Homo sapiens: one gene and its partners. The protein of the gene in region 6 interacts with the protein of the main gene of each other region in a pairwise test. Each region holds a gene or a part of one and is shown on either strand. Other genes may lie near its edges. The genes, in order: STAM2, KLHL20, FEZ2, CRLF3, TASOR2, PRPS1 and MLC1.

The links.
Region 1: the proteins of PRPS1 (region 6) and STAM2 interact in binary tests that used the Homo sapiens proteins (3 or more experiments, as listed by UniProt).
Region 2: the proteins of PRPS1 (region 6) and KLHL20 interact in binary tests that used the Homo sapiens proteins (3 or more experiments, as listed by UniProt).
Region 3: the proteins of PRPS1 (region 6) and FEZ2 interact in binary tests that used the Homo sapiens proteins (3 or more experiments, as listed by UniProt).
Region 4: the proteins of PRPS1 (region 6) and CRLF3 interact in binary tests that used the Homo sapiens proteins (3 or more experiments, as listed by UniProt).
Region 5: the proteins of PRPS1 (region 6) and TASOR2 interact in binary tests that used the Homo sapiens proteins (3 or more experiments, as listed by UniProt).
Region 7: the proteins of PRPS1 (region 6) and MLC1 interact in binary tests that used the Homo sapiens proteins (3 or more experiments, as listed by UniProt).

The regions. Positions count from the first base shown.
Region 1 is NC_000002.12:152,144,764-152,148,263, forward strand, and holds part of STAM2 (signal transducing adapter molecule 2), read right to left. Parts: coding exon 3,462-3,500; intron 3,360-3,461; coding exon 3,261-3,359; intron 2,546-3,260; coding exon 2,399-2,545; intron 195-2,398; coding exon 125-194; intron 1-124.
Region 2 is NC_000001.11:173,721,481-173,724,980, reverse strand, and holds part of KLHL20 (kelch-like protein 20), read right to left. Parts: intron 1-3,500. UniProt on the Homo sapiens protein: Substrate-specific adapter of a BCR (BTB-CUL3-RBX1) E3 ubiquitin-protein ligase complex involved in interferon response and anterograde Golgi to endosome transport.
Region 3 is NC_000002.12:36,588,169-36,591,668, forward strand, and holds part of FEZ2 (fasciculation and elongation protein zeta-2), read right to left. Parts: intron 2,844-3,500; coding exon 2,735-2,843; intron 1-2,734. UniProt on the Homo sapiens protein: Involved in axonal outgrowth and fasciculation.
Region 4 is NC_000017.11:30,818,193-30,821,692, reverse strand, and holds part of CRLF3 (cytokine receptor-like factor 3), read left to right. Parts: intron 1-3,500. UniProt on the Homo sapiens protein: May play a role in the negative regulation of cell cycle progression.
Region 5 is NC_000010.11:5,743,838-5,747,337, reverse strand, and holds part of TASOR2 (protein TASOR 2), read right to left. Parts: intron 1,160-3,500; coding exon 1-1,159.
Region 6 is NC_000023.11:107,642,010-107,645,509, reverse strand, and holds part of PRPS1 (ribose-phosphate pyrophosphokinase 1), read right to left. Parts: intron 3,145-3,500; coding exon 3,020-3,144; intron 334-3,019; coding exon 160-333; intron 1-159. UniProt on the Homo sapiens protein: Catalyzes the synthesis of phosphoribosylpyrophosphate (PRPP) that is essential for nucleotide synthesis.
Region 7 is NC_000022.11:50,071,927-50,075,426, forward strand, and holds part of MLC1 (membrane protein MLC1), read right to left. Parts: intron 2,407-3,500; coding exon 2,290-2,406; intron 1-2,289. UniProt on the Homo sapiens protein: Transmembrane protein mainly expressed in brain astrocytes that may play a role in transport across the blood-brain and brain-cerebrospinal fluid barriers. Regulates the response of astrocytes to hypo-osmosis by promoting calcium influx.

The DNA of each region.
Region 1 (3,500 bases), on a different chromosome or scaffold from region 6:
CTTGACCTCATGATCTGCCCACTTCGGCCTCCCAAAGTGCTGGGATTACAGGCGTGAGCCACCGCGCCCAGCCCTGGCAAAGATATTTTAAGCAACACTAAATTACATGTGCTTGATCATTTACCTTTAGCTATGTCTTCATCCTCTTTGTTTTTGTTCGATGACGTACCATTCTTGGCAGCAGCTGAGACAGTCTGTAAATGTATGAGTAAAATGAACACAACTATCTTTTCAAACAAAACACAAGCTCCATAATTACTTGCAGATGGTAAATTTTAAAAAATACTGATATAACTGAGTTTCATTTAAAAGTGAAGTTCTTTTTTGAGACAGGGTCTCATTCTGTCAGCCAGGTTGCAGTGCATGGCACAGTCATAGCTCACTGTAACCTCCAACTCCTGGGCTCAAGTGATCCTCTTGCCTCAGCCTCCTGGGAAGCCGGAACTAGAGGTGTATGCATCCACAACCGGCTAATTTTTATTTTTTGTAGAGACAGGGTCTCACTATGTTTCCTGGGCTGATCTGCAACTCTTAGCCTCAAGTGATTCTCCTGTCTCAGCCTACCAAAGTGCTAAGATTACAGGCATGAGCCACCATCACTGGTCTAAAAGTGAAGTTCTTTATAATAATTTTAAATAATTGTTTTCAAATACTAAAATAAAACATCAGATTTTTCAAGAAAACATTATAAACTCACACAGGGATCAAACTGGCTTAGATTTTGCATAAATGTAACACAGAACTTGGCATACAGAAAGTACTTAAATATTAATAGAATTTAAAAAAGACTCTTTTCTGATTGTATTCCCGATCTCAATTGTCCAAGGTCTCTTAGTGAGAGGAGCTCTGCTATAGGAGTACAGCTACACGAGGAGTGCCAGCAAGAAGTCATGATCATCACTGAAGAGAGAGGAATGGGGACAGAGACAAGAGGTGCAGTTCTAGGAATATGTGTGAAGTCCTTTTACTAGTTATTGTGGCTGGGTGGCAGTGGTCTGCCAGACATAGCAGAGAAGTAAGGAAGGTCATGCTTGAATTTAATAAACAGCATGTAAGACAGGTATCCAGGACTGATCCATCAACCGGTTCTTTACATAGATTTTTCAGAAAAATATGCAGAAAGGACAGAACAGGAAAATGTTTCCTTTTTATTACTTATAAGACTCTTATCTCAAAACGTTACCTTGTACCCTTAGGTCTGGTCAGCTATAAAGAATCTTTTTTCGGCCAGCGTGGTGGCTCATGCCTGTAATCCCAGCACTTTGAGAGGTCGAGGCAGGTGGATCACCTGAGGTCAGAAGTTTGAGACCAGCCTGGTCAACATGGTGAAACCCCGTCTCTACTAAAAATACAAAAAATTAGCCGGGCATGGTGGTAGGCACCTGCAATCCCAGCTACTCTAAAGGCGGAGGCAGGAGAATTGCTTAAACCCGGGAGACAGAGATTGCAGTGAGCTGAGGTTGTGCCACTGCACTCCAGCCTGGGCAACAAGAGCAAAACTCCATCTCAAAAAAAAAAAAAAAAAAATCTTTTTTTCTCTTTAATCTATGATTTAAAATAAAAGAAAATATAGTACTTCTCATCGTCTCTTTCCCTAGCCCATATCTTAATATTAATGGGAAGGAATAAGGTACTGAGAGCAAAACCCAAGGAATAGTATTTTTCTCCCCTAGACCTAAAAAAACCAGCCCACTCCATGAGTCAACATCCCTGCCTCCACACCCCAGTTCTACTAAAGCTATCCCTTCTCCCAGCAAATAAATTTCTAGTCTTACATTTCCATCCATCTTGTATGTGAAGCATTCACTCTAGGCATATTCACTCTTGAACAAACAAGTCTTGAGCCTCTCAATTCCATGAATTTGTTCATTTCACTTACCTCCTGATATGACTTCTTCACTTCTCTCTAACAAAATATTAATACATTCAAGTCTCAAAATTCTACCTCTTTACCTTCTTCACCATTCCAATCTGTAGTCACCTCTTTCTCTCTTTGGTATTAAGATAGACAGTATGCAGTCTATTCCCCTCATCCTGTATTTGTCACTTACAATCTAAATTAGTTATTTTTCACATGTATAAAGCTATCATTCAAATTTGCTACAAATTTCTTGAATATAAGGGGTATGTCATATACCTATGCCTTTTGCATGACTGTAGACTTAGAGGAACATTAAATACACTATGTCTGATTAACTTCACAAGGTTCTGATATGTGGAAGAAATACACATAAAAACTAGAATGTCTACTAAACGTAAGGAAGGCACTATGCTAGAGAGTCATTTGGGAAGTAAAGGTGGAAAATGATAATCTAGACATACCTTGCCTAGTCTTTACATAACATACATACCTTCAAAATATTATAGGGTCAACCATGGGTCTGAATAAATCTCTCACCTGAGAACCTGCTGGAGGAAAAGTAATTCCTTCTTCTTTCATAGATTTAATAGTTGCAGATATCAGACTAAACTGAGGGTCCTTCTGAAATTCTTCTGACCACTCCACCATTAAAGATTTCAGTTTTTCACATACTTTAGGATGTGCCTTTTAAGGAAAAGGAAAGGAAAATAAACAAAAATCTACGGTTAAAATAAGTACTTAAATTATTTAACAAGGAGAATTACCATCAAAATTCTCTTTAATTATATGAACATCAACAAAAGTCCTGAAATTTCTAGCCTAGTTGAGTAATTGATAGATGCCTATTTACATGTTGTGATATAGTTGTTTCATACAAAATGACTGTTTTTAACACCAATTCCTAAGTCTTACTATAATGACAACAGATCTTTTATATTCAGAGATTATTTCCTCCATGTTTCGGAGAATGGAGCCAGAGAAACCTGGATGTAAATCATGGCTATTCCAGTTACCAGCTGCATGACCTTGGACAAGTTACTTCTAAGTCTCAGTTTTTGCATTTATAAAATAAGAATGATAAGGGAATCTAACTTCCAAGAATCTAATGCTCCAAGGGTAGTTAAGAGCATTCAACAAGACAGTATATGTAAAATGCTTAAAGTAATGACTACTTACTAGCCCTCAAAAAGGATTTGCTATTATTTACAGTATATATACTTTGGGGAGAATAGTTTTTGGTGCTACACATTAAAAAATCAAATTTCAGAACAGTTTATTTCATTTCAATGATCTAAAAATGACTTCATTTATAATACTTTAGTAATGCCACATATAGTTATAATGACACACAATCTACATTTTTTTAATGACTTAAAGTTCTTCTGTTTTTAAAATTTACCTTATTTTTAATCACAGCACGTACTTCTGTTGCAAAATCACGGGAACATACTTCTAAATGAAATATCTTTCCACAGTTTGCCACACAAGCCCCAAGAAGCTATTAATTGAAATAAAAATATATGAATATTGAAATATTAACTTACTGTAATTAAAAACACATTTAAAATTTGCGTCAAATAATAACATGCCTTGTACTCACAGTTAGTGCTTGCAGAGCAACATGTGGAACCTTATGATT
Region 2 (3,500 bases), on a different chromosome or scaffold from region 6:
GAATGAGCATAACAAAGTGAACTTATATCATCACTTTTCTAGCTGAAATTAACGGGGATGGTCTAAGAAATTTTCAGAATTACCTTTAAGTACTTATAAAATACCTAAAATACTTTTATTATGTTTAAAAAGTCATTCCAGATAATATATAAGATACAAATTTGTATCTTTTCTTTGCGACAGGGTCTTGCTCTGTCACCCAGGCTGGAATACAGCGGTTTGATCACGGCTTACTACAGCCTCGACCTCCTAGGCTCAACTGATCCTCCCACCTCAGCCCCCTAAGTAGCTGGGACTACAGGTGTGAGTCACCATGCCTGGCTTGAAAATTTGTATCTTATATTCATATTTCATATGTAGAAATTCAGGTGCTAAATTACTAGGTAAAAGTCACAAATTACTGACAAATAATTAGAAATAAGATATTTGGATTTTTGTATGATCACATTATATAAACATGCAGAGAAAAGACAATCTATGCCTCTTAATTAAAATAATTATTCTTTTAACAAATATTTACTAATTGCTTTTAATGTACACAAAGCATTTTGCTATAGACTGTGGAAAATTCTAAGTAATATAAAGAAGCAATCTCTAGAGGAGGAGATACATGAATAACTAGTAAGAGGGCAACCAGGACAAAAGATGTGGTTCAAACATAAGAATTTTCGGAGGAGGCTGAGCCTAGTGGCTCATGCCTGTAATCCCAGTACTTTGGGAGGTTGAGGCGGGGGGATCCCTTAAGCCCAGGAGTTTGCCATGCCTAGGCAACATAGTGAGGCCCCATCTCTAAAAAAAAAAAAAAAAATCCCCAAAACATATATATCATGTATGTGTATGTGTATATATATATAAAAGAATTTTTGGAGGTGATACATATGTTTAGAACCTTGATTGCGGTGATATCATGGGTATATACATATGCCCAAACTCATCAAAATGTATACATAAAATATGTACCTCAATTATACCTCAATAAAGCTTAAAAGTCATTCAGAAAGGCAAAATCTATGAAGTATATGTTTAACATCATTCAGAAAGATTCTGGATCTCACAGGTATAGCCTATCAGGTTACTACAAAGGTTGTTGTTGTAAAGTAGGAATATTACACTGGGTTTTCCCAGAGCTTAAGTGAAATATCTCACATCCATGCTCCAGATCGTTATATTTCTGTTTCTGATTCTAAACTCATTAAGCAGTCCTCTGATGGAAAATTCTTCCAAAAGTACCATGCTACTTAAAAGGGGGATGACTCAAGCATTCTGATCACTGAGTTTTAGGTCAGCCTCATGTGAGTCTCTCTCAGATGCTAATTATCTACAACTACTGAGAGAGTCTAATATCTAGCCTGCAAAGGACAGCATCCCTATCAGTCTGCTACTTCCAAAGCTGTAGCACTGACGGGAACTACAGTATAATAAAACACTAAAGTGTAAAAGGAGTCTCCTGAGAAGGACAGAAAAATCTATAAGGACATTCTAGGGAGAAGAAATTGCATGTGCATTGCAAAGATATAGCACAAAAATAAAAAACATGGTTCTTCTTTTCTCCAACAACAACCAATTTTTCCAAAACACTTATACATCTGGTAAAAACATCACTGTTTACGCTTGGCAATTTTAAAGACTAAAACATAAAGCTGAGCAGTTAAAGAATAATTTTTACCATCCATATAAACAATCAAGAATGCTTTTAACCACAGAGCTAAAATGGTGCCTTGTACACAGTAGATGCTGAAAGAATAAATCACATGATTAACAGTGGTACAATCAAGCTTCTTTTTTAAAAAAGTAACAATTAAAGACAGAAGACCAAAAATTCCTGGAATACTGACACTGCATGCTGAAAGTAAAGTGTTATTGTCACAACCTTAGTTACATACATAAAGATGCTACTGTTGAACTGAGATATAAACAATTTTTTATTTCACCTAAGTACAATGTGGGTAAACTAAGCTAATGTCTCCGTTTTTCTTTTAAACATACCATAGTGCCAGGCGCGGTGGCTCACACCTGTAATCCCAGCACTTTGGGAGGCAGAGGTGGCTGGATCACCTGAGGTCAGAAGTTTGAGACCAGCCTGGCCAACATGGTGAGGCTCCATCTCTACTAAAAATACAAAAATTAGCTGGATGTGGTGGCGCATGCCTGTAATCCCAGCTACTTGGGAGGCTGAGGCAGGAGAATTGCTTGAACCTGGGAGGCAGAGGTTGCGGTGAACCAAGATTGTGCCACTGCACTACTCCAGCCTGGGAAACAAAAGCGAAACTCTATGTCAAAAAAAAAAAAAAAATTACCATAGCAAAAAAAAATAATGCTCTTATTACTGCATCAGTATAGTAGAATCTTTTTTTCTTTTTTTTAGAAATAAGGTATTGCTCTGTCACTGAGGATGAAGTGCAGTGGTATGATCACAGCTCACTGCAGCCTCAAACTCCTGGTTGAAGCGATCCTCTCACCTCAGCCTCCTGAGGAGGCTCTCAGGTGCATGCTACCACGCCTGGCTTAATTTTAATTTTTTGGTAGAGACAAAGACTCTCTCTGTTTCCCAGGCTGGTCTAGAACTCCTGGCCTCAAGTGATCCTCCTGCCTCAGCCTCCCAAAGTGCTGGGATCACAAGTGTAGGCCACTGTGCCCCCAGCCATTGGTGTCCATCCATATAATTTTCACTTCAGGAAATATCATTCATCTTTTGCCTTTTTTCCTCAACCATTTAAGAATGTAAAAGCTAGCTGGGCATGGTGGCTCACAGCTGTAATCCCAGCACTTTGGCAGGTTGAGGCAGGAGGATCGTTTGAGCTCAGGAGTTTGAGACCAGCTTGGGCAACAAAATGAGATTCCATCTCTACGAAAAAATTTAAAAATTATCCAGGTGTGGTGACATGTGTGACAAGTGCTTCTTGAAAAGCTTGCAGAACCACAAGCCAAGATAAACTTCTTTTCTTTATAAATTACCAAGTCTCAGGTACTTCTTTATTGCAATGCAAAATGGACTAATACGCTATCTAAATGAACATTTCACCTTTCCTACTTCAAAAATTTTGTTTTACTTTGAAAATTAACAACTTGACCTTAAAAAAGATTCAGTTGCACTGACCCTCATTTATAGTCCTAAATATACTTGAATAGAGACAGCTGGAGATTTGAGTGTATAAACCCTCAAAACAGAAATAACATCTCAAAGTGTCACTTCTACTTAGTAGAAGGGGTCCCAATAGGCACTATATTCCACACCTGATTCCACACCAGAAGGCCAAGCTATTAACCTCTTTATTTGAAACTTGGTTGTGAATGTTTTAGTCCCAAGACATCTCATCACGGCTTATTGGATAAAATGAGCATAAGCCTTGGGTGCCTTGGTCCAGTGATCGAGACCAAGATGGAGCAGGAAGGGTAAATCCTCATGCAAGCATGCTAGTTTCCCTTTATATCAGGATAGCAAAAGCCTTCCTAGAATACCCCTCAACAACTACTGCTGACATCTCATTGGTAGCACTGTG
Region 3 (3,500 bases), on a different chromosome or scaffold from region 6:
CAGGCATGCGCCACCACGCCTGGCTAATTTTGTATTTTTAGTAGAGACGGGGTTTCACCGTGTTGGTAAGGCTGGTCTCAAACTCCTGACCTTAGGTGATCCATCCACCTCAGCCTCCCAAAGTGCTGGGATTACAGGCATGAGCCACCGCGCCCAGCCAGGTAAGGCTTTTTAATGTCAGTACTAGCATTAAACTCTACGTCATTACTAATCACTGCCTTGGCCATATCATTACCGTGGCATTGAAAATAACATTCAAAAGGCAGCAAAAGGGAGCAACCTCCCAAGATGCAATCTAAGAACAATACAAGACATACAGCAGTCCCTCGGTATCCAAGGGAAATTTGTTCCAGGACACCCCAATAGCAAAATCTGCAGATGCTCAAGTCCCTTATATAAAGTGGGGTAGTATTTGCATATAACCTGTGCACATCCCCCTATAAGCTTTAAATTATATGTAAATTACTTATAATACCTAATACAAGGTAAATGGTTTATAGTTATATTGTATATAACTATACAATATTTATATTATAAAGTTATATTGTATCGGTTTTCGGTTTTTTATTTTCATTATTTTCAATTGTTGTGTTGTTATTTTATTGTGGGGTTTTTTTTTCAAGTTTTTTAATCCACAGTTGGCTAAAGCAGCAGATGTGAAACCAGAGAATATGGTGGGCCCGCTGTACATTTAGTCAATGAAATTGGATTAAACTGTCTCACTCACGCTGCTAATGGGCCTGACTTTGAAACTATGAATGGAAACTCTTCTATGCTATTTTTTAATATGTCAAAAAAGTAGTACCCATGGACTGGTTTTGGTGCATTCTGCATTATTTTAAATAACATAGAAAATATTTTTTTAAAACCTTTCTATCACGATCTCTGGCCCTACAGTTTCACTGACAAGGCTATTCACTTATTCACTCAATAAAAAGGTATCTTCAAACTTACTATGTGCCAGGAACAGTATAGTTACTATAAAGACAAATACAAATACCTGCCGGGAAGTCACAATCTAGTGACAGACCCAGAAACATATGATTAACAAGAGAAGGCAGTGGTAATTTTAGAGACAGGGACAAAGTGATCTGGGGACTAGCACCCATGAGACAGCAAGGCTAAACCCCGTGGCACAGATAACAAGTCCTTTCAAAGTTCACAACCCCACAAGTGCCATCAGTTCCCCTAGAGGGGAGTGTGTTTTCCTTCCGTGCAGGAATTTAGGCCATGGCTAAATGACCATCTGTCAGAGATGCTGGAGGTGAGGATTCCCCCCAAGTGAGAGGCTGGATTAAGTGTCCTTTAAAGCCCCTTCCAACTCTAAAATTGTATAATTCCATGAGATCAGCAAAGGCTAAAACAGTAATAGGAAGCTTCAGAGAGGAAGGGAAACTTGAACTAAGCCCAAAATGATAGCCAGGACCTAAGTAAACAAGACAGAGCAAAAGATCCCTCATTTTATTCCTTTTCATTAAATATATGCCAGGTCAGTCTGCAAAGCTTAATGGGATTAATGACTGGCACAGTCAGGAAGATTTCCATAGCTACTGAATACTGGGAAATACAGCCAGAATTCTACATTTTACTAGAAAATAATAACAGTAGGCTTTTCTGATCACATATGTAAGAAAATCCTTTTAACAAAACATTAACAATACTATGTAAAATAGTGACAGGCCTACTGCACTATATTCTCAATAATCACATAATTACACTTAATGAAATATAGAGCACGCAAGAAGATCTGGCATGAGTTTACATTATTATTTGATAAGGAACTTAAACAGCCAGGCCCTGAAACTTAGATAATTTGGATATGTTTCTCATCAGATTTAAAAAAGCTTAACACTGTGATTTTCCATTTCAAGTAATTCTCAACCCTTTTCTGCCTCCCTACCTGTCCCACCACTCGTGCTCACACTTCTTAGTCAAGACATCTTCACTTTACAATACCAGGATGTACACAGGAGACCCCAAGAAAGGTAAGTTAGCCAAGACCGTATTTTAAAAGCCAAGAACTAAAATATCTTTTAAAGGTTCTCCAGTATTCACAGGAATACACAGTCTCCTGACAACATATCATGTCTAGCAGGTCACTACACTCATTAAAAAGTTAACTCCGTGTTGAGATTCCAATACTCTCAGTATATTAAACCAAAGGCTAGCATTTTTACTGAGGGTTTCAGTGCACCAAATTTTACTGAGTGTTTCAGTGCATCATCACTGCCAGGTGCAGTGGCTCACACCTGTAATCCCAGCACTCTGGGAGGTGAATTACCTGAGGTCAGGAGTTCGAGACCAGCCTGGCCAACACAGCGAAACCCTGTCTCTACTGAAAATACAAAAATTAGCCGGGACTGGTGGCTCATGCCTGTAATCCCAGCTACTCGGGAGTTTGAGGTGGGAGAATCGCTTGAACCCAGGAGGCAGAGGTTGTAGTAAGCCACTGTACTCCAGCCTGGGCAACAGAGTGAGACTCCGTCAAAAAAAAAAAAATTGTGATGGAAATTTAGCTACACATAAAAAATGAGTGTGCTGGAGAAGAACTGGAGGAATGTGCCAGCAAGGTGATGGCCCTACAGCCAAGACATCAAGACAGAGCCACCCAAACTGCTATAATTTCAGAAATGAGAGGCAGGTCAGTGAATCTGTGTTAAGCAGAAATGCTACTGTTTTAGTTCTATTATCAGCATCAGTTATTCAAACACTATTGGTTCAATTCCTAACTTACCCCTTTTTCTGAGAGGTTCAGAGTAAGCAAGTGCAAGGTCCTAGTATGCGATGACTTCCAGTCTACAGGCATCACATTCCCATAATTATCTGTCAGGGCATTCCAAATCCTTAAAAAGAAGAAAGCTACAATCAATGAAAATTAACATTCTGTATGTCTTTCTTAAACAAATATTCAGTGAAAGATGAACAGCAAATGTCAAAGGAAACAGAGAAAAACAGACAGCACATTGTTTCTCAGAAAAACATCAACAAAGTAGAGTCTCCTAAACAAAAACGAGGTGAAAAATCACATAACTGGGCTGACAAGAAGTCCTAAGGGAAGGTGAAGCCGTACAGAAAACTGCCAATAGGCAGTAGGCAACACTTCCATTATATTAGGTGCTAGGCACTGTTCTAAGCAATTTACATGTATTAACTCATGTAATCTTCAAAAACAACATTAGAAGGGGGAACCATTATTAACCTCATTTTACAGATGAAGAAACTGAAACACAGGGCGGGGAAGAAATGTTTCCAGGGTCACATGAATAATAAATACAACTGTGCATTACACTTATTTTTCTTCTGTAACTTCAAACAAACAGACCATTTCAAAAAGTGAAAAATCTCTCTCAAACAAAAGGTTTGTTATCCTTTCTGGAGAAAGAATTCGCTCTCAATGTGAGAACAGGATTTAATATCTAATTTGTAATAAAGAAGCTAAGCACTAAGGCAGATACAACAAAAAGGAGAAAGAGAGGGAGTTCACAATAAAACACACCCAG
Region 4 (3,500 bases), on a different chromosome or scaffold from region 6:
CAGTATGTAGCCCCTTGTGACTGACTTCTTTGACTTAGAATAATGTTTCAAGGTTCATTGATGTGGTAGCATGTAACAGTACTTCAAACCTTTTTATGGCTGAATAATTGTTATGTGGATATACCACATTTTATTTATCCATTCATCAATTAATGGACATTTGGATTATTTCCACTTTTGACTATTATGAATAATGCTTCTGTAAAGAATTTGTAGACAACTTTTTGTGTGGACATGTTTTCAGTTGTTTTAGAATATAGCTAGGAATTGGTGGATCACATGGTAACTTTTTGTTTAACCTTTTCAGAAACTCTTGGCATACTTTTTTTCCTTTTTTCTTTTTTTTTTTTTTTGAGAAAGGACCTCACTCTGTCACCCAGGCTGGAGTGCAGTGGCACAATCTCAGCTCACTGCAAGCTCTGCCTCTCAGGCTCAAGTGATCCTCCCATCTCAGTGTGCCGAGTAGCTGGGACTACAGGCACGTGCCATCACCCCTGGCTAATTTTTTGTATTTTTGGTAGAGATGGGGTTTTGCCATGTTGTCCAGCCTCCTGGGCTCAGATGAACACCCACTTTGGCCTCCCAAAGTGTTAGGATTACAGGCTTGAGCCACCGCACCCAGCCTCTTTTTTTTTTTTGAGCCAGAGTCTTGCTCTGTCACCCAAGCTGGAGTGCAGTGGCATGATCAGAACTCACTGCAGCCTCGACTTCCTAGGCTCAAGCCATCCTCCTGTCTCAGATCCCCAAGTAGCTGGGGCTATAGGTACACACCACCACACCTGCCTAATTTTGTTTAATTTTTTTTAGTAGAGATGATGTCTTCCTGTGTTTCCCAGACAGTTTCTTCCTTTTTTTTTTTTTTTTTTTTTGAGAGAGTCTCGCTCTTTTGCCCAGGCTGGAGTGAAGTGGCACAATCTTGGCTCATTGCAACCTTCAGCTCACTGCAACCTTAGGCTCACTGCAACCTCCGCCTCTTGGGTTCAAGAGATTCTCCTGCCTCAGCCTCCCGAATAGCCAGGATTACAGGCGTCTGCCACCATGCCCATCTACTTTTTGTATTTTTACTAGAGACAGGGTTTCACCATGTTGGCCAGGCTGGCCTCGAAGTCCTCACCTCAGGTGATCCTGCCCACCTCAGCCTCCCAAAATGCTGGGATTACCACCGTGCCTGGGTGAGCCACCGTGCCCAGCTGCCAGGCCGATTTCTAACTCCTGAGCTCAAGCAATCCTCTTGCCTCGGCCTCCCAAAGTACTGGTATTACAGGTGTGAGCCACTGCATCTGGCCTACCTTTTGTCTTTGCTTTAGTTTCTTATCCTTTAAACTCTAGCATGAAATTTGTCTCGTATTGAGAAATCATGTTGTATGAACATTTAGAAGGAAGAAGAATAAAAATGTTTTTAAGTTATTCTGTCAAAACTGCCAACATGTAGCAGTTTCTCCTCTTGTGGTTAAGTTTGGGCTCTACCCTCTGTTTTCAGAGAAAAGGAAGTTCTGTGTAGGAATGCAAGGATTGTCTGTTAACTCTTAATGTTTGAATAAGTTAAAGGCTAGAAAGCTGTTCATTGTCTTCAGGAAATCAGATAATGTTTACAGCCAACTTGGCCTAGCTGATGTTGAAATCATTAAGAATAGTTCTCTATAGCTCACTGGAATCCTTGGTACTAAGATGTAAATACCAAAGAAATTAACTCCCACTGTCCTTAAATATTCATTTGTTCATTCACTCAATAAATATTTATTGGGTGCCTACTGTAGGGCTGAGAAACTTCTAGGTCCTAGATTCTGTGTTCAAGGAAATAGATCACTGCCCTCATGGATTTATGCTTTCCTCTTTCCTTTGGTGGCTGATACTTAGGTTACTACCCCTAAAAACAAAACAAGTAAGAAAAATATAAGTTCTATTTGTGTATTCATTTTTATATTTCACTTCTATTATATCTTTCATCACTTGTCCTATTTCTACAGCATTGGCCTTTCTGTTTGTTATAAGTAGAGATCCAGCCTGGCCAATATGGTGAAACCCCGTCTCTACTAAAAAAATACAAATTAGCCAGGTGTGGTAGCGTGCACCTGTAGTCCCAGCTACTCAGGAGGCTGAGCCAGGAGAATTGCTTGAGCCGGGCAGGCGGAGGTTGCAGTGAGCCAAGATCACACCACTGCACTCCAGCCTGGGCGACAGAGCGAGACTCCATCTCAAAAACAAAAACGTAAGTAGAGATAACTGATCAAAATGTCACGTAGTGATGTCAGCTGGCCACTCAGGCCTCACAGAGTGGCACCACCTTGATGACAATGCCAAAGTCAGGGCCTGGTCTTTAATCTTTGTAAGTCCAAAAACTTCATCTTGGTACATTATCAAAGGGGAATTAGTTGAGGTACTGGAGGTGTCTACAGTGAGAAATGCCAGTATTTTAGTCTGTGTGTTGTAGTTCACTCTATAAAATGACTATGTTGGCTTTCATGTACCTTTTGGTATTCTGATTCAGTATTTCTCAGGACACTGACAAAAGCAAGTCTCTGCTCCTTCAAGAGCAAATGGTAAGATCCTGGTACCTAATTAAGATACTAGTTGGTGGCTGGGCTCAGTGGCTCACGCCTGTAATCCCAGCACTTTGGGAGGCCGAGGCGGGTGGATCACATGAGATCAGGAGTTTGAGACCAGCCTTCAACATGGCAAAACTCTGTCTCTACTAAAAATGTAAAAAAAATTAGCCAGGTGTGGTGGAATGCACCTGTAATTCCAGCTACTCTGGAGGCTGAGGCAGGAGAATTGCTTATACCTGGGAGATGGAGGTTGCAGTGAGCCAAGATGGCACCACTGCACTCCAGCCTCAGCAACAGAAGAAGACTGTCTCAAAAAAAAAAAAACACTCAAAAGTTATTTCAAAAAACCAAGACAGGAAGTCTCAGTAGCTTAGCAAAGAAAAGAAAGCTGTTGGCCAGGCGTGGTGGCTCACACCTGTAATCCCAGCATTTTGGGAGGCTGAGGCGGGCGGATCACCTGAGGTCAGGAGTTTGAGACAAGCCTGACCCATACGATGAAAACCTATCTTTACTAAAAATACAAAAATTAGCCGGGTGTGGTGGTGGGCGCCTGTAATCTTAGCTACTCGGGAGGCTGAGGCAAGAGAATTGCTTGAACCCAGGAGACGGAGGTTGCGGTGAGCCGAGATCATGCCACTGCACTCCAGCCTGGGCAACAGGAGTGAAACTGTCTCAAAAAAAAAAAAAAAAGGAAAAGAAAAGAAAGCCATTATTGCTCCTTTTATCTCCCACTTCCCCTTCTGTTACCCATTTTGAAAACACTACAAAAATCTGTGTATAATTTGTTACAGTAGTAGTATTTAAAGTGTCCCTATTATAGTATTCTAAGAAAAGGTTAAATCCAGATACAGGGAAAACCAAGAACAGATGAAATAATTTTTTTTTTTTAATGAAGTTTCGCTCTTGTCGCCCAGGCTGGAGTGCAATGGCTCAATCTTGGCTCACTGCAACCTC
Region 5 (3,500 bases), on a different chromosome or scaffold from region 6:
ATTGCTCTATTTCACCAGCTGGCATTTCTTCTCTGGGACTTGTAGGTGGTGATATTGTTAGAGCTAAGTCAATGTCAGAATCTTCCTCTGATAACTCTAGGCTGACCTCTCTACTCACAGACAGGCTTGTTTGTTTGATAAATACTGAATCAAACGCTTCCAAATTCATATTTTCAGTGTTTGGACCATTCTTGTGATTCTTCCTTAGTTCTAAAGAGTCACCTGATGTGTGGCATCCTGACGAAATGCAGTTAAGTGAACACTGCCTTCCCAAGGTGGTAGAGGCTGATGATGAGTCCACTTCAACCTGTGTCAGTTCTAGAAGCCCTTCTGAAGATAGGCCGAGGAGACTCTGAGTCTGTGAAAGGAAATCCTGAGTGCATCTCACTTCTTCACTGGGTGATAGATGACTAGAACTTTTAGCTAATGATAGTGCCTCCATGACCATTGTTTTATCAGATGGTAGAGAGACTGGAAGGGGCGTCTCCTTCTGTAATGAACACACTGCTTTATCAAGTGTCTCTCCACCTACTGACGAGGCACAAAGGTACTTAGTGCCCTTCTGTCCTGCAACTACTAGAGAGGGAATGTCCCTCAGGCCTTGTGTTCGTGCATTTTCCGAGGTGGATACAGGATGTCTAAGGCTTGCAGCAGGTGATACTTGCTTAATCAACTCCTTCTTAAAGGTTGTACGTTCATCAGCAGTATTTACACCTTCTGTCTGTATTGGTACATGTGCATTTTTTTCAAAGGTGAGAGTAATTGGTTCCGGGTTAATCACTGCACACCCCATATTATCATCCTTTCTTTCCAAGGAAGGGTGACATTCATTGTTTATGGGGCTGCCATGTTGGATAAGGTCCTGTAAAGTACCTGTTTTTGTTTGCACTGCTGCATCAAGAATATCCACTTTGTTTTCAAGGGTGCCGTACACAGAGCTCTGACATATCACTGGCTGACTGCCAGGCCCATCGTAAGTCCTGGTGAATGTGGCTTGAGTAACAGTGCCACTGTAAGAAGCCACTCTTGTGCTATCCAGTGGCTGAACAATTTCTTCTTCACTAGGAACAGAAGGTCCATTAGTTTGTGTACTTCCAATACCCGAAAGCACAAGATTAGAAGTCTCCAATGATTCTTGTTTAGCTTCTTCCCCAGTTACCTGAAACGGCCAAAGTAAAAAAAAAAAAAAATCAGTCATATAAAATGTTTTTTATACGATTATATGTACATGTGAAGAACAGAAAAGATAAAAATTAATTTTAGTTTGTGAATGTTCTTCTGAATTTTCTAGCTAAAAGAATATCACAGGGTACAAATCAAGCAAGTCCCTCTTTTAAAGGCAGACTTAAAATACCCCCCAGTGGGATTTGTTTTCTTTAAAACCACACACAGAAGAGAGCTCCAAGCTTTTTGGAAGAAAAATAACTAGACCACTGACAATTTAAAAGACTTTAAATGCAGCCTGTTTGCTACTTAGCACCGCTTAATCCAGAAGTGTAGCACTAGAGAAAAAGCATTCAATTTTGTTTTTAATAAATGAGATTAATTTTTTTTTTTTCAAGACAGCGTCTTGCTTTATCGAACAGGCTGCAGTGCAGTGGAGTGATCTTGGCTCACTGCAACCTCTGCCTCCCGGGTTTAAGTGACTCTCTGCCTCAGCCTCCCGAGTAGCTGGGATTACAGGTACATGCCACCATGCCCGGCTAATTTTTGTATTTTTAGTAGAGATGAGGTTTAGCCACGTTGGCCAGGCTGGTCTCAAACTCCTGACCTCAAGTGATCCACCCACCTCGGCCTCCCAAAGTGCTGGGATTACAGGTGTGAGCCACTGTGCCCAGCCTAAAAGATAATTTTTAAAAAGCAAATAACATTTTTAACATCCGTTTTCAATTAGACCATAAGTACACCATCATCTGAAACTTTCCCATGAGGCAACAGAGTAAATTAATTACTACCCCCTGTACTCAGAATACATTGATTCTAGTCAACAAAGGCCCCTCATCCCTTAGCTATCTTCTTTGCATGAAACTGGAGATTCTTTCTCATTTGAATACCTATTGTACATGGCAATTGAAAACTTTATCAATGCAGTTTGCAATCATAAACTGAACTAAAGGCACTGATTTAAACAGTAGCAAGCAGGATTTAGGTTAAACATTAGCAGAGCTATCATCTCAGGACAGTTCTCATAACCTCATAAACAGGGTGGTATTTGTTTTTTGTTTTATTTAAAGCCTCAAGCATGGCCTTGTCGAGCATATAATAAAATGAACTGATTATACAACTGATCACACCCCTCTGCAATGCTGGGAACACCATGCTCACAAACTGCGTGCCATGTCTTGAAGCATACATGTTGGAAATCAGGAACTGTGTTCCAAATCTCTTGTTAAAAACATTTCTGTCTTAGGTAGGGCACGGCTTCTCACGCCTGTAATCTCAGAACTTTGGGAGGCTGTGGTGGGCGGATCACTATAGGCCAGAAGTTCGAGACCAGCCTGGCCAACATGGCGAAACCTAGTCTCTACTAAAAATACAAAAATTACCCAGGAGTGGTGGCATGCACCTGTAATCCCAGCTACTCGGGAGGCTGAGGCAGAGTCACTTGAACCCGGGAGGCGGAGGCTGCAGTCTCAAAAAAACCAAACCAAACAAACTCATTTCTGGCTGGAGCAGTGGCTCACGAGACTCTGTCTCAAACAAAACAAAACAAACAAACCAACCAACCATTTCTGGCTGGGGGCAGTGGCTCACGCCTGTAATCCCCAGCACTTTGGGAGGCTGAGGCAGGTGGATTGCCTAAGGTTAGGAGTTATAGACCAGCTTGGCCAACATGGTGAAACCCTGTCTCTACTAAAAATACAAAAATCAGCCAGGTGTGGTGGCAGGCGCCTATAATCCCAGCTACTAGGGAGGCTGAGGCAGGAGAATCAGTTGAACCAGGGAGGTGAAGCTTGCAGTGAGCCGAGATCGTGCCATTGTACTCCAGCCTGGGAGACAAGAGTGAGACTTCTCAAAACAAAACAAAACAAAACAAAACAAAAAAACAGAGTCAACAGTGTGGGGCTGAGACAACAGAGTTTTAAGAGAACAAAGTATTAGAAAAGTCTTGAGAGTCAGTGTCCTTCTGAGAACTTTAATGGCCCTCCCAATCATGTGGCTGGTAACGTTTAGCCTCAGTCCTAAATCTCACCATGACTGTAGTCTTAGTGAAATGCAAATAGTGACAATCTTGATATATTTCTATTTCGATATATTTTTACTACAGGTAAAGTGTAATGCTTCTAAAATAAAGTCTGACAATTCAGAAAGAGTGCTCAACTCAACACATGACTAGCAGCAACATGCTTTTGGTTTCTAGTGCCTATCATGCTAGAATCCTCTTCTTCACATTCCAGTGTGCCAACTGGTGGAGGGAGTGCGATAGCACACGTGTGCCTTTCAAGTACAGGCACAGCATTCAACAAGATGACAAAAAAACAAAAGCCTACGTAAGTACA
Region 6 (3,500 bases):
ATTTCTATGTATTATAATTTAAGCCTTGGGTGATAAAAATCTCACAAAGTTACTTATCCCCTCAATTTGGTTCCAAAAGGAATCAGCAGGCTGAAGACATTCAGACAGCAATTGCTAGCTTTTTCCTTCTAACTACCAGCCCCATCAATCCACACTTACTTGTCAGCTGCATGGCAGATTGTGCCACAAGTGTCAGCCATGTCATCCACAAGGATGGCCACCCGATCCTTCACATCTCCCACAAGCACCATGCGGTCCACTTCATTGGCCTTCTTCCGTTCTTTGTGAATCAAGGCAAAGTCCACATTCAGCCTGTCTGCAATGGAGGTCACTCTGCAAAACAGAGCGTGTTCATATGTATGTGTGGCTTCTAAGACAAAAGAAATGGACTAAAGAGGCCGGGGGCGGTGGCTCACGCCTGTAATCCCAGCACTTTGGGAGGCTGAGGTGGGCGGATCACAAGGTCAGGAGATAGAGACCATCCTGGCTAACACAGTGAAACCCCATCTTTACTAAAAATACAAAAAATTAGCTGGGCATGGTGGCGGGCGCCTGTAGTCCCAGCTACTCGGGAGGCTGAGGCAGGAAAATGGCGTGAACCCAGGAGCTGGAGCTTGCAGTGAGCTGAGATCGCGCCACTGCACTCCAGCCTGGGTGACAGAGCGAGACTCTGTCTCAAAACAAAAAAAAAAGAAAAAAAGAAATGGACTAAAGAATGGGCTTGTTTTGGGGAGGAGAATACTCCTTGAAACCAATAGTTCCCAGGGCTGGAAGAATGAAAGCAACTATCATTGACTTCTCAAAGGCAAATATCACAAACTGGGTTTTATAAACCAGTGCCTCCATAGCTCAACAGAAGCTTATGAACGTACTGATCAAACTTAGATGAGTATTCATTCTGGGTAGAGGACAGACACCCTCACCAGTACTGGGAAGCAGTATAACGCTAAGACACGCAAGTTTATTTAATGGATTGGCAGCAGAAGGAATGAGGAAAGAATTAACTAATGCCAGGAGTACACAGACTGTCCCAATTCCCATCATGGAAGACCCGTGAATGGGGATGTGGTGAGAAGAGAACCTGACTGGCAGGAGAGGAGCAGCATCCAGCCTGTTCCAATGCCTGTGTCCTCATCACTTCCCTCAGTGCTGTTGGCAAAACATCCATCAACTGTCACTGTCAACTGTACCTGGACACCAAGCTTGGGAGTTTTTTTCACAATTGCTAGACAGAAAGTTATATCAATTACCCAGACAAGCTAGGCATCTCACCATTCGGTCCAAAGTATCTTCCAATCAAAGAGAATTCTTATTTTTCTTATTACAAGAGAAAATAAACCAGACTAGAAGGTAGGATAGAAGACAAATTTGTCTTTTGACAAAGTACCACATAATTCAAACAAAAATCTATTCAGTGTAAATGACAGTGAGCTGCCCCAGTGGCACGTCTGTCCATGCTCCGCTGTGCCATCTCCGTCATGTGTGAAGCAGCCCGTGCTTGGGGATTTGTCCTGTTTTTTAATGTAGAACTGAACAAACTATAGCATTTTGTCCTGTTTCTCTTGTGACTATGGTCACATGAGTTTTTGCTGGATAAGTGAGAACCTGTGACCACATAATAAGGTTTGAACCATAATCTAGGTAACATTTGTACCTTGATCTAAACCAACCATACCCTGTACTCTCCATTACTACTACTGCATAAGCACATAACATCAGTGGTAACCAATTCGCTTGGAATGATTACTTACCCAAGGCAAATGCATGATCAATTAGTTCAAGTATCCCAAACCAACCATACTCAAAGGCCAACAAATTCAGTGACCAACAAAGCATAAAAAGGGCTAGAAAAAGTAACTCTCTACACCTTTTGAGGAGAGAACTACTGTACAAATGAATATCACACAGGGATCTCTACCTACTCCCCAAACCCTGCCAACACAGAAGTGATAGACACTCAATTGTAAAATACTCCATCACTATAAGACAATGATAATGAAAAAAAAATCAGGTAGCAATAAGTTGTCTACTAAAGGCAGTTTTCCTATACCCACCTTTGGAAAGAAAATCCTGCCTATTTCAAATGTGACTATTTTCTAAGTCCCACAGAAAGATATTAAAATAATGACCGACAAATTAAATATGACAACTACTAGTTGGGGGGATGTTTCTTAGGCTGTCTCTAGCATTACAGATGGTAACTAGCAATTACATGGGACTCACCAACCCATATATCTGGCTGGATAACATAACTCAAGTTCTCAGCTTATCAGTTCTGTTGAAGTTACTGAAATAAAAGAGGTTGTTGAGAAACAGTCATTGAAGATTTGAATGGCTTTTAGAAAGTTCTGAATTAGCTCTTCCTAATCATCTGTGTTTTGTAGCTCTTCATTCTATTTCCACAACAAGAAGAACATGTGTCACACTTTTGAATGCATTACTAACGAGTAATCCACTAAGGAAATCAAGAGCTCTTAGTCTGCACCATGTGAGCTGCAAAGCACTGTTAACTGGCAATCCCTGGCAATCAGTTTGTTTAAAATGTTAAGATCTTGGCTTTAAATAAAAATGTCACACTTTACTTTCCTTCCTGCTTAATATTTTAATCCCAAGGATCAAAATGATCTAACCAACAGCATTGTAAGAGGAGTGTAAAAGCGAATTTGTCCACCAATATGTGGTTCAATAGCAGCTGCTATTCATTAGAAAACCACATTTTCTACCCTTCCCAAAAGGTTTATAGCTGTATTGCTAGCTCTGTAGCACCAAGTTACTCATAAGTTATAGTCAAATCCATAATATGATGATTTAGGACCCCTTTTCTGTCTTGTCTTCCGAGTAGTAACTGAGGACAGTAAAAGAGGAAAGGGTAAAACTATATTCAACCCATGTGCTAGCTACTTACATCCATTCAAAAATACTTAAAAACTGCCACTTGGATAGAAAAACTTCACTTTGTGACACAACCATCTGAAAGATTTTCCCAGTACATTGGGAACAATACTAATTTCAACCATACCTCTTAGCTCCACCAGCATCAGGTGAGACAATAGTGCAGTTCCTCCACTCAGAGATATTCTCCCTTATCCACTTTAGGACAGCCGGCTCTGCATACAAATTGTCTACTGGGATATCAAAAAAGCCCTGTAGAAAGAAGCTGGATCAGTTTTGCTTCACTTTCCTTCTCTTCCATTTATAAATGGCAAACACAAAGTAGTAACTTGCTCAGAGAATGTCTTACTGCAACATTCAAACTGATGGGAAGGCAGGCCCAGTGTGGTAGATTATAAAAGCCTCCTTGAATCTGGGCTATGTGAGAGAGCCCAGCCAAGATCAGCAAAGCCAGCCCTCAGTCAACCCACAACTGAACATAGGAACATAAGTGAGCCCTTGTAAAGAATGGCTAAGTTCAGACAAAACCATTAAGAACTGCCCAGTCAACATGCAGACTCAGTGAGTTTGTAAATACTGCTTTATGCCACTAAGTGTTGGACTGATTT
Region 7 (3,500 bases), on a different chromosome or scaffold from region 6:
TGGGCTCCGAGCAGGGGAGCCTGGGCAGCAGGGAGAAGACTGGGGAGCTGAGGGGCTGCCAGTGCAAAGGCCCCAAGCCAGCTGCTGAGGTGGGTGTGGCCCTGGCCAGGGAGGCTGAGGTGTCAATACAGGGGTCTCTCCTGGGCTTGGTGCTTCTGAAAGGGCCTTCTAGCTGTAAGCAGCAGTGAGGGCACAGGAAGGGATGGTGGCTTCAGGGTGGCCTATTCAGGGCCCCAGTGAGCCATGGGAGGGCGGGAGTTTCCCCGTTCACCCAGCATGGCCACTCCGGCCCCTGCCCTAGAGGGCCAGGAAGCTCAGCCATAGGGGCTGGGGCAGCTCAATCAAGGGCCCTGCCCTGGAAGGGTCCAGGCCTGCAGCCCAGCCCCCAACTCCAGCCCCGAGCACCTGCCTCCAGCCCATGGTGCAGGGCCTGGGCCCCTCTGCCGCACCCAGGCCAGACTCAGGCAGGTGGAGCTGGGTCCCTCACCACGCATGCCTCAGCGCTCTCCTCTCCTCCTGGGGTCTCCTGCCCTGAAGAGAGGGTTGGGAGTGTGGGTGGATTTAGGGGCGCCCAGGGGGCAGCACCTGATGGGCAGGGGGTGCTCTCCGGGAAGATGGAGAGAGCAGAGCCACCCCCGAGGCAGGAGGGGTCTGCGGGATGGGAGGGGCCTCTGTGATGAGGGCTGACTGCAGGGACAGGGAAGGGGGTAGGGCAAGTGCCTTTCATTCTCAACTTTTTGGAGGTATGTGGTCTCTGTCCTCCCTCAGCTTCGGGATGTAATCCCTGCGTTTCAGACCCCAGGGTCAGTTGTACACACCTGCAGGCGTCATTCTCTCTGTCACAGACCCGCTTGGGTGGGCACCCATGTGAGTTCTCTGTCTCAGTAGCTGGGCCTGGTCCTACCCCTTCCGGGGGTGTGGCTCTATCCCAGCTCGGTCCTGCCTGGGTCTCTTTCCCTCTCTGAGCGCCTCAGCAGCCCACTAGGTCGGGCACTGGTGCCCTGGGGGCATTGCTCTGTGCCTACTCGCCCCCACAGGGAGCTGAAACACAGCTGCTGCCAATGGGATGTGTCCACCTGGCAGGCGTGGGCCCCTTCTCGGCAGTCCACCCGGCCACACCGTTCCCGGGCAGGCGTGGGCCCCTTCTCCGCAGTCCACCCGGCCATACCATTCCCGGGCAGGCGTGGGCCCCTTCTCGGCAGTCCACCTGGCCATACTGCTCCCAGGCAGGCATGGGCCTCGGCAGCTTCAGGAAGAGCCCCACTGCTGCCCAGGAGGAGCCTGTAGCTGATGCTGGGTGCTCACCATTCCTGCTCATGTACATAAGAGAGCAGGGGCAAAATCTAAAAGTCCACACAGCATGAGACAAACCAGGGGCTGGCCGTCAACACCGGTGTGCAGGCCACTACGCGGCAAGGTGCTGAGAACCTCGTGGGGTCTGCGTCCGGAGGCAGGTGGGTGGTGGCTCTGGGTGGGCTACAGGCTGTGAGGGGATCTGGGGTGTGGAGGGGTTGCTCTAGACTCACTGTTCTGAGGGAACACACCTGTAATCCCAGCACTTTTGGGGGCCGAGGCAGGCAGATCACTTGAGGTCAGGAGTTCAAGACCAGCCTGGCCAACATGGCAAAACCCGGTCTCTACTAAAAATACAAAAAAATTAGCTGGGCATGGTGGTCCACGCCTGTAATCCCAGCTACTTGGGAGGCTGAGGTGGGCAAATTACTTGAACCCGGGGAGGGGCAGAGGTTGTAGTGAGGTGATATTGAGCCACTGCACTCCAGCCTGGGTGGCAGAGTGAGACTCCATCTCAAAAAAATAAATAAATAAAATAAATAAAACAATGCCCATGTATTGAGCATGTGGCATGTGTCAGGTGCTGTGTGACACATCTGCTGCAGTAACATTTAATGTAAAGTAATAACAGAAATATGCTGCATTGTATGAAACACATAGTGTAATATAAATGCATTATATATTAGAAAATTATATAGAATAATAAACATCTACAGCCTGACATTCATATGTTAAAAAGATTAGAATAATAAAAATAATTGGTATTTTTTTCAGGAAAAATAATATAAAATAATCACACAAACTAATATAAAAGCAGTTAATACTTTGACTCATTTAATCCTTAACTCCCCAGTTCTTCTGAAGTTGGGGGCCAGCGAGGACCCTCTGTGGTGACTCTCTGTCTGAATGCACCAAGACTGAGCTCGGGGCCCAGCCACGCAGGATCTGAGCAGTGTGGCCCAGAGCGGCGGCGGGCGGGCCAGAGGGGTTACTCACGGCCACTAGGATCCAAAAGAACGTCACTGAGAGGTGTGGGCCTGAAACTGAGTCATCCACGTTCAGGGCAATGATCCCCCCGAGGACGGCAGAGATGCCTGCGATTACCTCGACGACCTGGAGGGGACAGGACAGCATCGGCTCATAAGGAAGTGGAGACACCCCCAGATTCCCAGAATGCACTGTGCAGACATGGACCCCCAGGAGCAGGGTCCAGTGGGCTGGCCCCAGATCTAACCGTGGAGGAGCCCACCTGGATGGACCCCCAGCCTCACCTGGCCCAGACCCCCTCTGCCCTCAGCTGCGGCTTTTCACGTCCCTCCTGGAGTAAAATAGCCAAAGAGGTGTTTCCCCCACTGCTGCTTTTGTCCACAGAAACTGAGGGTATTGACCTGACAGTGGTGAGGGCAGAAAACCAAGACCCTCAGACTCCCTTCCCTGTCTCACAGTGTGGCAGGCGGCGGTGCTCAGACCCTGGACCCCATCGAAGGGACTCGGGAAAACAGGCCTGGGGCAGAAGTAGCTTCCCATAGGACACACCCACCCGTGCCATGTGGGTTTGCCATTGCCACGGCAACACTGGACGTCACCACCCCTTTCCGTGGCAATGATCCAACCACCTGGACGTTAGCACCCCTTTTCTAGAAATTTCTGCATAATCTGCCCCTTAATTAGCATATACTTAAAAGTGGGTATAAATAGGAGGCAGAGCTGTCTCTGAGCTGCTGCTCGAGGCACCTGCCGGTTGGAGAGCCCTGCTATACTGCCACTGCAAACAAAGCTGCTGTCTGTCACCTCCAGCTCGCCCTTGAATTCTTTCCTGGACAAAGCCAAGAACCCTGCTGGCCTAAGCCCTGGTTGTGGACTCATCTGCCCGGCACCATCAGGGCCGCAACCAGCACCGCCAGACTCAGGGAGGGGCCGCAACCAGCACCGCCAGACTCAGGGAGGGGCCGCAACCAGCACCGCCAGACTCAGGGAGGGGCCGCAACCAGCACCGCCAGACTCAGGGAGGGCTGGGGAAGAAACACACGCCCGAAAACCTGCTCCCGTGAAGGATCTCTGTGAGTCGCAAACACAGAGCTGTGGCCAGCAGGAAAGCCAGGCATAAGGAGTGGGCCAGCAAGGGCTTGGGGGCCGGAAGGGACCTGGGCAGCCAGGCCTTGCGTCCAGAAGGCACAAAACTCCAGATGCACAAATAAAGCTGAATT